Linked DNA regions of Homo sapiens: region 2 is linked to region 1. The links come from fine-mapping of genetic effects on gene expression. Tissue or cell type: whole blood. Region 1 holds a variant in brackets; the other region holds the start of a gene. All regions are shown on one strand. Distances are from middle to middle.

The links. PIP is the estimated chance that this variant, and not a neighbour inherited with it, causes the effect.
Region 2: SLC35E1 starts here. The variant in region 1 is fine-mapped to the expression of SLC35E1 in whole blood (TOPMed, PIP above 0.99).

The regions. Positions count from the first base shown.
Region 1 is chr19:16,547,978-16,553,315 of GRCh38, forward strand. SLC35E1 (solute carrier family 35 member E1) reads right to left here. Exons shown (of 6, transcript NM_024881.5): 6 at 1,860-5,338. Among named protein-coding and RNA genes, the nearest start is that of CHERP, 8.2 kb to the left of the region's middle. RefSeq lists an enhancer at 61-160. The variant CG/C (reference allele first, on the strand shown) is at 2,764.
Region 2 is chr19:16,570,117-16,575,454 of GRCh38, forward strand. SLC35E1 (solute carrier family 35 member E1) reads right to left here and starts at 2,299. Exons shown (of 6, transcript NM_024881.5): 1 at 1,828-2,299; 2 at 1,396-1,466. The coding sequence starts at 2,248. It overlaps MED26 (mediator complex subunit 26), which reads right to left. Exons shown (of 3, transcript NM_004831.5): 3 at 4,803-5,338. It overlaps LOC105372295 (a long non-coding RNA gene), which reads left to right and starts at 2,434. Exons shown (of 3, transcript XR_936360.3): 1 at 2,434-2,692. RefSeq lists silencers at 1,666-1,795, 1,956-2,065, 2,196-2,415 and enhancers at 2,334-3,208, 2,516-2,605.

The DNA.
Region 1 (5,338 bases):
AGGGTCAAATCAGAATCTACTGGTCAGAAGAAAGCAGTAGAAAGAGCTGGTAGACTGGCTGCTGCAGATACTCTCCAGCAAGTAAAGTGGACACCTCGAGTGAGATGAGCCTTGTGAAGGGACTCACCTAAGCAGCAACATGGAGGGCCAGGTGCACTGAGGGGGTTCTGTGGCCCATATGTCTGCTAGTTGTGATTTCTTGAGTCTGGACCCCTTAATCGGAATGGTCTCATTGTGGTCAGGGTCAGATGGTAACTAAAGTTTTGTGGGGTTTTATTGAAGACAGGGTCTCGCTCTGTCACCCAGGCTGGAGTGTAGCAGTGCGATCTCGGCTCACTGCAACCTCTGCCTCCCACGTTCAAGCGATTCTCCTGCCTCAGCCTCCCAAGTAGCTGGGATTACAGGAGCGTGCCACCACGCCTGGCTAGTTTTTTGTATTTTTAGTCGAGATGGGCTTTCACTATGTTGGCCAGGCTGGTTTTGCACTCCTGACCTCAGGTGATCTGCCCACCTTGGCTTCCCAAAATATTAGGATTACAGGCGTAAGCCCTGCCACCTCCCCCTAGTCCCCCATCCCCCGGGTCTTAGCATTTCTAAGTAGCTCCCATGTGCTACTTAGTTACATACCTGTCATTTAGGCTGAGTGCTTTGAAGGTAGGAGGCTTACATATCTGTTTCCTGCTGCTTGACACAGCCAGTGCTTAGTAAATCACTAAACAAAAAGATTATGAATGAAAAGGACATGGGCAACAGTTTCAGCAGAAACTCAAACCCTTTCTGTCTGAAAGAAATCCTTTGCTGGGGATGGCTTAAGTAATGGGGAAAAATGGGTTCTGGAGCCAGATTTAAGCAGTTATGTAATCCCAGATGAGTGACTTGACCCCGTTGGGCCTCATTTTCACCTGAAAAACAAGGCTAATAAAACTCACAAAGGTATCGTGTGTGAAAAGCTCACCACTGAGCTGGGCATGTAGCAGGTACACAGTCTTGGCTGTCAATACTCAAAAATGGCTTCAGGCTGGGCACGGTGGCTCACACCTGTAATCCCAACACTATGGGAGCCAAGGCAGGTGGATCACTTGAGCCCAGGAGTTCCGGACCAGCCTGGGTAACACAGAGCCCCATCTCTAAAAATATTTTAAAAATTAGCTGGGTGTGGTAGTGTACACCTGGACCAGCTACTTGGGAGGCTGAGGCAGGGGACTGGAATGTAGGGTTTGGTGCTGCAGGAAGCTGTGGTCGTGCCACCGCAGTCCAGCTTGGGTAATAAGGTGAGACCCTGTCTCTTAAACCAAAAACATAACAGGCCAGATAGCTTGAGCCCCAGAGTTTGAGACTAGCCTGGGCAACAAGGTGAAACTCCATCTTTACAAAAAATACAAAAATTAGCCAGGTTTGGTGGCACATGCCTGTATCCCAGCTACTTGGGAGGCTGAGGCGGAAGGATCCCTTGAGTCTGGGAGGTTGTGGCTGCTGAGAGCCGGGATTGCGCCACTGTACTCCAGCCTGGGCGACAGAATGAGATCCTGTCTCAAAAAACATGAAACATACCAAAAAAAAAAAAAAAAGTTTCATAAGCACAGCTGCCACAATGTTCCTGGACTTCCCATGTTATTCCGTTCAATAAAGTCACGTCATTAATTTAGCTGTGATCCTATTTTCATTGTATCATCTAATCAATTCACAAATTGCACGTCCTTATTTTTGGCTCAGAAGAAAAAACAAAGGTTGCAGTAAATCCAGACGTGACAGCCAAGTTGGCTTGCTCTTTCTCCTCCTTCCACATTTTGTTGCTGGGCACACTGAAGACAGGGCCACTCAAAAAGAGACCCTCGCTGACAAATCGGGACCAATTTTGATTCCCTGGAAACCATCATTTATTTTTGGTAAATGCCAGTGAGGAATATACACGTCATTCCTGCAGAAAAGTCTATAGCATTTAAGTCTTGAAAACAGGTGACAATTGAAAAACATTATAATATTTTCAGGTCTTTTAATAATTCAATGCTCTGTGTCCTTCAGGCTGTGAGACCCTAAGGTATTGGGGTCTGGTAATGTCCCAGCTATAGCAAAGGGCCTGTTGGGTGACATAGGACAAATATACAGCAAAATTCAGAAACTGCAAGTGCTTCCTCACTTGAACGGATCTGGCCCCTTTGTGGTAGGGGCTTGACTGTTCCTAGAATGAATGACTTAAAATAAGGTGGTTAAAAATTCTGCAGTGAGTCTCGCCATGGTGAACAAACATGATTCAGAAATGCCTCCTTCTATAAAATGAAGGAGCTGGGTTGGAGTCAGTATTACCAGCCAGACCATACCCTGATGGGTAAAGGAAATTCTCTACCACAGAGCTCAGCAGTGAGGTGGCTGAGAGGAAGGCAGGCCTGCAGATGAAAGCGTGGGAGTGGAGCATGTGGGGCGGGCACTGTCCGGCTGGGAAAACCCAGCCTTCAAGAGGCCATTGTCAATCAGGCTGGGCACGGTGGCTCATGCCTGTCATCCTAGCACTTTGGGAGGCCAAGGTGGGCGGATCATTTGAGGCCAGGAGTTCGAGACCAGCCTGGCCAACATGGTGAAACCCTGTCTCTACTAAAAACACAAAAAATTAGCCAGCCGTGGTGGTGCATGCCTGTAATCCCAGCTACTCGGGAGGCTGAGGCACGAGAATCACCTGAACCCGGGGGATGGAGGTTGTAGTGAGCTGAGACTGCGCCACTGCACTCCAGCCTGAGCAACAAAGCAAGACTCCATCTTGGCAGGGGG[CG/C]GGGGGATGTGGACCTTCAAGTCTCAGAAATATGTGTTTGTCTTTTGATCTGCTGATTTGGTGTAACGTGATTGCCTCATTCATTCCAGTGTACGTACTTGCTGTAAATTTATATACAGAATTAAATAGCCCATTTATTAATTTATAAACCATAATAAAACCAGACAGTCATTTCCCGTCACCAGCAGATCTTGCATTGGAAAAGGAAAATAATATACAAATTTCAGCAACTTCAGAGATTTCAGGAAGCCTGAATGGAGGTCGAATTCATTTTGGAGTTCAATAATATGTTCAAAGAATCAGGTACTATATATAATCATATAGACAACTCCCGTAATATCTCCGCAGTGCAAAATTATCCCTGTTTCTTGTCATTCACCAGTGAGAAAAATCCAACTGCAGACTTGACTGCCTTCGGTGAAGGCACACGGCAAGTTCTTCTGACAAATAACACCCTTTGGGATTGACTCTTCACGTTTTACACAGCAATTGTCTCAGCTTGGGACCAAAGTATTTACAAAGCAAGCGAACAAGAGACGAAGCAAGAGGGACACTTCTGAGGCCGGTGGTGCGGAAACTCACCGCCAAACAGGGTGGGGGGCCAGTCACCTCTTCAGGAGTGTCCCATGTGTCAGCTGACATAACATCTTAAATACAGAATTCCAATTGAAAGAAAAACAAACAACAACAAAAGAAACACCAGTCAAGCATAAGTGATGTTACTTCCTCTCTGAACAGGGAAACATCTCGCTCGCTGGGAGATAAAAGGTAAATCTCTCATTTGCTGCTCTCTTCCCCTAAGTGCCAGCAAGAAGCTGGGTGTGGTGATGAAGAAAGAAGGCAGCCATCACCTAAGACCCCACAAGCCAAGCCGTGGTCCCCTCCGTGAGGGCACGGTCCTTTCATGAAGCCGTAAAAGAGACCACAGCTCGGACCTGAGCACTCAGGGTTACCTACTGGGGTCTTGTCATATTCCTTATGTTGATTTCTGCCAAGACCCAAACTGATTCCTTTTTTTTTTTTTTTTTTTTGAGACAGAGTCTCACTCTGTCACCAAGGCTGGAGTGCAGTGGTGTGATCTCAGCTCGCTGAAACCTCCACCTCCTGGGCTCAAGTGATTCTCCTGCCTCAGCCTCCCAAGTAGCTGGGATTACAGGCAGGTGCCACCATGCCTGGCTAATTTTTGTTTTAGTAGAGATGGGGTTTCACCATGTTGGCCAGGGTGGTCTCAAACTCCAGTGATCCACCCACCTCAGCCTCCCAAAGTGCTGAGATTACAGGCATGAGCCACCACGCCTGGCCCCAAACTGACTCTTGACCAAAGAATCTGATTTGGCAAACCAAATCTTAGTGCAGTGTTCGCTCCTCGTCCCCTTACCCAGAACATGATTCAGATCCTAACATAAACACAAAAACAGGTCAGGGAACCAAAACACTGTGGTCTTGTCTATTATACAAAATATTGAGATAATGTTCACGATTCATTCTGTTTTCAGCAATTGTGACAATTTTGAAGCTTCTCTCGAAGCTTCGAAACACTTCATTTCCTACTAAATACCAAAACGTGTCAGACAGGCATCACCAGTGGGAACTTGGTTTTGTTTTGTTTTTTTTTTTGAGATGGAGTCTCGCTCTGTTACCCAGGCTGGAGTGCACAATCTCGGCTCACCACAACTTCTGCCTCCCAGGTTCAAGCAATTCGCCTGCCTCAGCAGCCTGAGGAGCTGGGACTACAGGCACGCGACACCATGCCCGGCTAATTTCTGTATTTTTAGTAGAGATGGGGTTTCACTATGTTGGCCAGGCTGGTCTCGAACTCCTGACCTCGTGATCCGCCCATCTTGGCCTCCCAAAGTGCTGGGATTACAGGTGTGAGCCACTGTGCCTGGCCGGGGAACTTTGTTTTTAAACGTTTACAAACAAAAAGATTTTCGATGCATAGGCCAGTCCTAATGCATCCCATAATGGGGACCAAGGCAAAAACACACACACACAACTACAAAATATTCCCTAGAAAAATGCAAGATCCTCCGAAAATCAAGATCTCTCTACCAAACAACATACCAAGTCATCACAGAAGAGGTGAAGATGCCTCTCAAAAGACATGTGCCACAGAAATAGAGCTTGAAATACTGAACACGATTTCTCGAAGATCCTTCTCACCACCCCAAGAGAAGCGCCCTGCTCTGGTGAGGGAAGAGGAGGCAAAGGAGAAGAGAGAAGTTTCCCTTCCATCTGGATCTGGGTGGATGCCAACCCTGACGTGCAGGGCAGAGCACCAGGCTGCAGGAACTGGATGCTAATTGCAATCGCTTTTTGCTTTGGAACATTTGCCAGGAACTTGTGAACTGCTAAGGGGATGACCAGGAAACTGGATCCATCTCTGTGGCTGGGGATGTTTTGAATGATTCTCGCGGGCTCCCTGTCTGCTTGGTGACCCTGTTGGTCCTATGCGTATCTGCGCCAGGGAATTAAACTAGCCAGTCTGACGTTCTCAAGCACCGCCCTGGACACCCCCACTGCCAGTTCATGGTCTACAGCCACAGTGACCCCAGCTTTTCACACAGGTCCTGA
Region 2 (5,338 bases), 22 kb after region 1:
ATTCCCAGTCTTTCCTCACTGTGTGAAGTTCCGGCTCCTTGCCCAAGCTGGGTACAATGTCCCGTACAACGGGGAAACCTGATACACACGATGATATCCGGTGATGCAGCTACACACCTCAGGGACAACTCTGACTTCTCAGGAGCCAAGTCACAGCCTGACATCACCCTGGGGGAGCAGGGCTACAGAGCACACACAGGTCTTGCTGAGACAAAGACAGGCAGGAATAAAAAAAAATCAGCCATAGGTGGCCCAATTTCTATAAGCCGATCCAGGGCACTACCTCTCTGAGTTACATAAAATACAACATGCCAGAAACCAACCACTTGGAAAAGAGGCACGGTGTCCAGCATCAGCATGAAATGGATTCCGGCTGAGACAACAAGCGCCCAACTTCCACTTAAGAATACGGGATAAAGCTGTCTCCGGCTAAAGCCATGGCTATTCTTGCCCCAAGCCAGGAAATACCCTGGCTTGGCATCTTGAACAGAATTTGGACTGTGCCCAAAGCATCCTCCTTATGCAGCCCTGAGTCCTGTGTGCCACTTTCGCTTCCGTTCCCAGACCATCACAACTTCTGGCTGTTTTAATTTCTAAGACTTTGCTGGATTTTGCCAAGATCGAACTCCTTGGATCGCGTCTGGCTTCTGATCCCAGAGGTCCCCTGACAGAAATCTCTTGTCAAGAAGTGAAAACCTAGCCAAGTGCAGTGGCTGACGCCTGTAATACCAGCACTTTGGGAGGCTGAGGCGGACGGATCACTTGAGGTCAGGAGTTTGAGACCAGCCTGGCAACATGGTGAAACCCTGTCTCTATTAAAAATACAAAAAAATTAGCCAGGTGTGGTAGTGCACGTCTGTAGTCCCAACTACTTGAGAGGCTGAGGCAGGAGAACTGCTTGAACCTGGGAGGCGGAGGTTGCAGTGAGCTGAGATTGTGTCACTGGACTTCAGGCTGGGCAAGAGTAAAACTCCGTCTCAAAAAAAAAAAAAAAAAAGTGAACACCTAACCGACAGCGTTCTGATCCATCCATCCCTAGTCCCACTGGAAAGGCCACACATGGGGTGTATGGCCAAGATGTGACCAACCCATCACCTACCAGCAAACCCAGGTAGGGAATCAAAACGGGGAGGAAAATTGGATCTGAAAGGGACAACAGTGTTCCTAAGACCACACAGCAGAGATCACAGAGGGACACATACTCCACACACCACTGCTCACAGGGTGATTCTAGAACTTGAGTAGTAAAAGGCCACTGGAGACCTCTACACTGACTTCCCTATTTGACGGGAAGCCAGGCAGCCTGCAGACCAGGATCCTGACCACGTCACCAGTTGGCAACAGGGAGGAACCCCCTGGAGCTCCCATCTGCCCAGAGTCCCTGCCCGGGGTTACCTTGGTGCTCTGCTTCTCCTTCATAATGATCCGGGACAGGAGGACCACCCAGATGGGCATGGTGGCCTTGACTGCAAAGAGAGGGATGGGCACTCAGGGGGCTGCCTGAATTTCAGGGCCCAACCTGTTCCACCTCCACGGCGGGATGGGAGGGCCTGGCAGCCCCTCACACCTCTTCGCCCCTTCTCTTTCGGTAGGGCTTCCTCCTGCCACGGCTGTTGTGGTCTGTCCTGCTTACCTCTCAGCTCTCTTCTCAGCTCCTCTTCTCCCTGAGAACCCCGTGCGTGTCCCTCCCCTACCAAACCCTTGGCAGCCCCTCTGCTGACTTCTCAGTCCGGCGGGACGCGCCCCGGGCGGCGCACTCCTATCCATGCGCCCAAACCCGAAGCGGCGGGCCCGGCCGCCGCCCCCGAGGCCGGGCGCGGAACCTACCGGTGTGTGCATAGGACACGGGCACCTTCCAGATGCTGACGTGCGCTGACACGGACGCGAAGTACTTGCCGAAGGCGAGCGGTAGCACGTAGCGCGGGTAGAAGCGCGGCGGCAGCAGCGGGCCGGACGACGGATGCGGACTGGGTCCGGGGCCCGAGACGGGCGGCGCGGGGGGCACGCGCCAGGCGCGCAGCAGCGGCGGGAGCCCAGCGCACAGAGCCAGGATGTGGCACAGCGACACGGTCACCGGGAACGGGAAGGCGCTCAGGATCACCTTGTTGACCACGTTGCCGCCCGCGCTCAGCGCGTACCACAGCAGGCACAGCGCCGCCACCCGCGCGCCCTCGCGCGCCCCACCACTGCTGCTCGCTGCGCCCGGGCCCCCCGCGCCGTGGCCCGCGCCCACCGCGGCCGCCGCCATCCTGCCCGAGCGGCCGCCCCTTCCAGCCCGTCCGACGGCCCGACGCCGGGCGGGGGCGGGGCTGGGCGGGGGGGCAGGCGCCCCGGTCTACGCCGTTTCCCATTGGTCGCTGCCTCCTCGCGTCATCCCTCCGCGCCGGCCGACGCGCCAGCCACCACGTCTCGAGTGCAGGCCCAGTCCACTGTAGATGCGCTTCCGGCGGAGCCGAGGCCGGAAGCGGAAGAAGGGGACACAGACCTGCGTCCAAGCTGTGCCACCTGAGACGTGGGCGGTCCCAGTGACCGGGAGCCGGAGCTCGAACGGGACGGGCGAACAGAAGCGCGGAGGGCTTCGCAGCGTCGGCGTCTGTGCGTGGGCCAAACATCAGGGCCTCGACCAGGGATACAAGGGCAACCGCTAACTAGATTCCTGATTCCTGATGGCTGGCGGCGGCTGACACCAAAGGTAAAAGGCCTTTTAGGGAAAGAAACCATTTGTGAAAAGCTCTTGGGCTAAACTCGCTCTGCAAACTGGGGGCGCACGCTCGTGGCCAAACTCTGGCAGTGGGACTATCCCGGAGCACCCGATCCCTGGAATCATGTTCTGGAAACCACCGCGACGTGCGCAGTTCTCGGGCGTGGCCCTGGTATCATCCCACTGAATCCTAGGAACGCGGTGCGGTAGGTATCACTGTCCGCATTTCACAGACCGAAGTCCAGAATGGGGAAGCGACTTGTCTTAGGCTTCCTGGCCACACTGGGGACCGTGGTCATGGTAGCGTCCTTGGACACCTGTCTCCAAGGCTCTGCAGAAGGGGGAGGTGCCGGGCCCTGACGGCTGATGTCCAAGGACCAGCCGGGATGGACCAGCCCCAGGAGGCCCCAGTGGAGGAAAACAGGACGAGGTTTTCAGTAAGATGATCTTATACTAATTCAAGGGCTATAATTTGTTCTCCACATCGTGTGCCTCCAACTTTTTCGGGGAAAGGGTGTTAAAATTCCGTTACAGTGTTTTTACTTGTCAAATTAGAAGCAGCAACCGGCTGGGTGCAGTGAGTCAAGCTTGGAATCCCAGCACTTTGGGAGGCCAAGGTGGGCGGATTGCTTGAGCTCAGGAGTTGGAGATCGTGGCATCGATAACATGGCAGAACCTCATCTTTGCAAAAAATACAAAAATTAGCCAGGCGTGGTGGCGCACGCCTGTGGTACCCACTACTAGGGAGACTGAGGTGGGTGGATCGGCTTGAGCCCAGGTCAAGGTTCCAGTGAGCTATGATGGCGCCACTGCACTGCAGCCTGGGTGACAGAGCGAGACCCAGTCTCAAAGAAAAGTAGAAAGCAGCAACCCAACTTGGCTCCCCAAATGTTGGAAGGTATCTTAGCTTATCCTTGCATTCTCAAAGGCCCTAGGCCCTTCTGGATACATGGACACAGGCATGGTAGTCCCTGCAGGCAGGGGTAGTGGGGAGCTGCAACCTATCCCAAAACTCTAGAGATGCTGATAGGAGGCCAAGCTCTGCACCCTAATATCCTCCAGCTGTACCCTCTGTGGATCAGAGTAAAGTCACATCCTTGGGACACCATGTCTCAGCAGAGCTGTTAAACATAGGCACAGTGAAATTAGGAAAGTATAACTATAGGCACCCTACAGCACAGCTGAGTGTCAGATACTTCCACTGACACACTGACATGCTTTGTGTTTTAGTTCTCACAACTCTGGGGTATTCTCACCCCCCAAATGGGGACATGTGCACAGGAGTGAAGAGATGAGCTCAGAGCCACACAGCTGGTGGGTGGTAGGCCTGGGTTCAACCTCATCCTGCCTTCAAAGCCACTTTGCCCATGGCCTTTTGTTGGGGAGGGGAGTGTGTTCTGCACCAAGCTTTTGCCAGGAATCCCTGCTAGCTCTCAAACTGGCTCTGGACTGACTGTAGTCTTACAGGCTGGAAGGAACCTTTGGTTTGCCCTGTGAGACTGCATGTCTTAAGGTGTAGCTGTTTCTTCATTTGTGAAATTAAGCAGATATGGGTAAGATGACCTATTCCAAAGTGAAAAACTGGAAAACCAAAGTCTTAGCCTACAGTTTCAGGGACGAGGGGGAACTAAAAGATGAGCACTTTATAGTCAAGGGAGAAAAATTTTTTTGGAGTCAGCACCAACCAGCTAATAAGGCAGCTGGGGGCCAGGGCCATGGGGTGGCCTTTCAGACACACACACACAGCTCTGAGCCTCTGGGCCATACCTTGTAAGAACTAGGTATTTTGTTGAGGTGGGGGTAGTCACTGAGACCTGTGCTATGGGAGCCTCCTACAGAGGGCTGCTCTCTAGGCCAGGTAAAGTCTGGGTGAGACAAGAAAACATTCCTTAATGTGGCCCTGAATGAATAAAATGTGGAGGTCCTCCCAAATGCAGCAGCAGGCTAACAGGTGGACTGCAAGGCTGTGCCCTGCCCTGTCTCCCTGCATTGCAGCTGTTGGGGTCTGGGTGTTCCTGGCTAATAATCCACAATCCAGGAAAGGGCTGATTTGGTTGTGAAGGTCCAAATGAGAAAAGATTCTCAGACTGGTTTGTGCAAATGGTTTTTTTTTTTTTTTTATTTCCACATTTATATCACAAGGTGTCCACTTACTGGACCAAATAGCAAAGTTGCTCCCTTCTGCGTCCTGAGAACACAGAAGTCTAGGTACTGTACATTCACTAAGGCTCCTTGTTTTTGCAAATCGCGTTTATGACAAATAACCATAAGGCAAACGAATCTAAAGGAATGGTTATGAGTGTTTCCAGCGTACAGACAGGTCTTCCCCCTCGCCCCACAGTACAGCATAAAACCAGTAGCACCCACAATAACTTTTGTGTTGTTTTGGGGGGACTCTAGAAAGGTGAAGTTTTCTAGATGTGTACAGGAAGGGAAAAAAGAAAAGGGAGGAAGAAAGGAAAGGTTTTTTTGTCTGGTGGTCTGATGGAAGAGGAATTGTTTAAAATAAACATGAGAAAACTTAAATTTTTGCAGCATTTCTTTAAAAACTGGGTTATAACTGAAACCAGATATAAACAGGTGGCTGCCCATGGAGTGTGGGTCACACTGGCTGGCCAGCTGGCCCGCCTGCCCAAT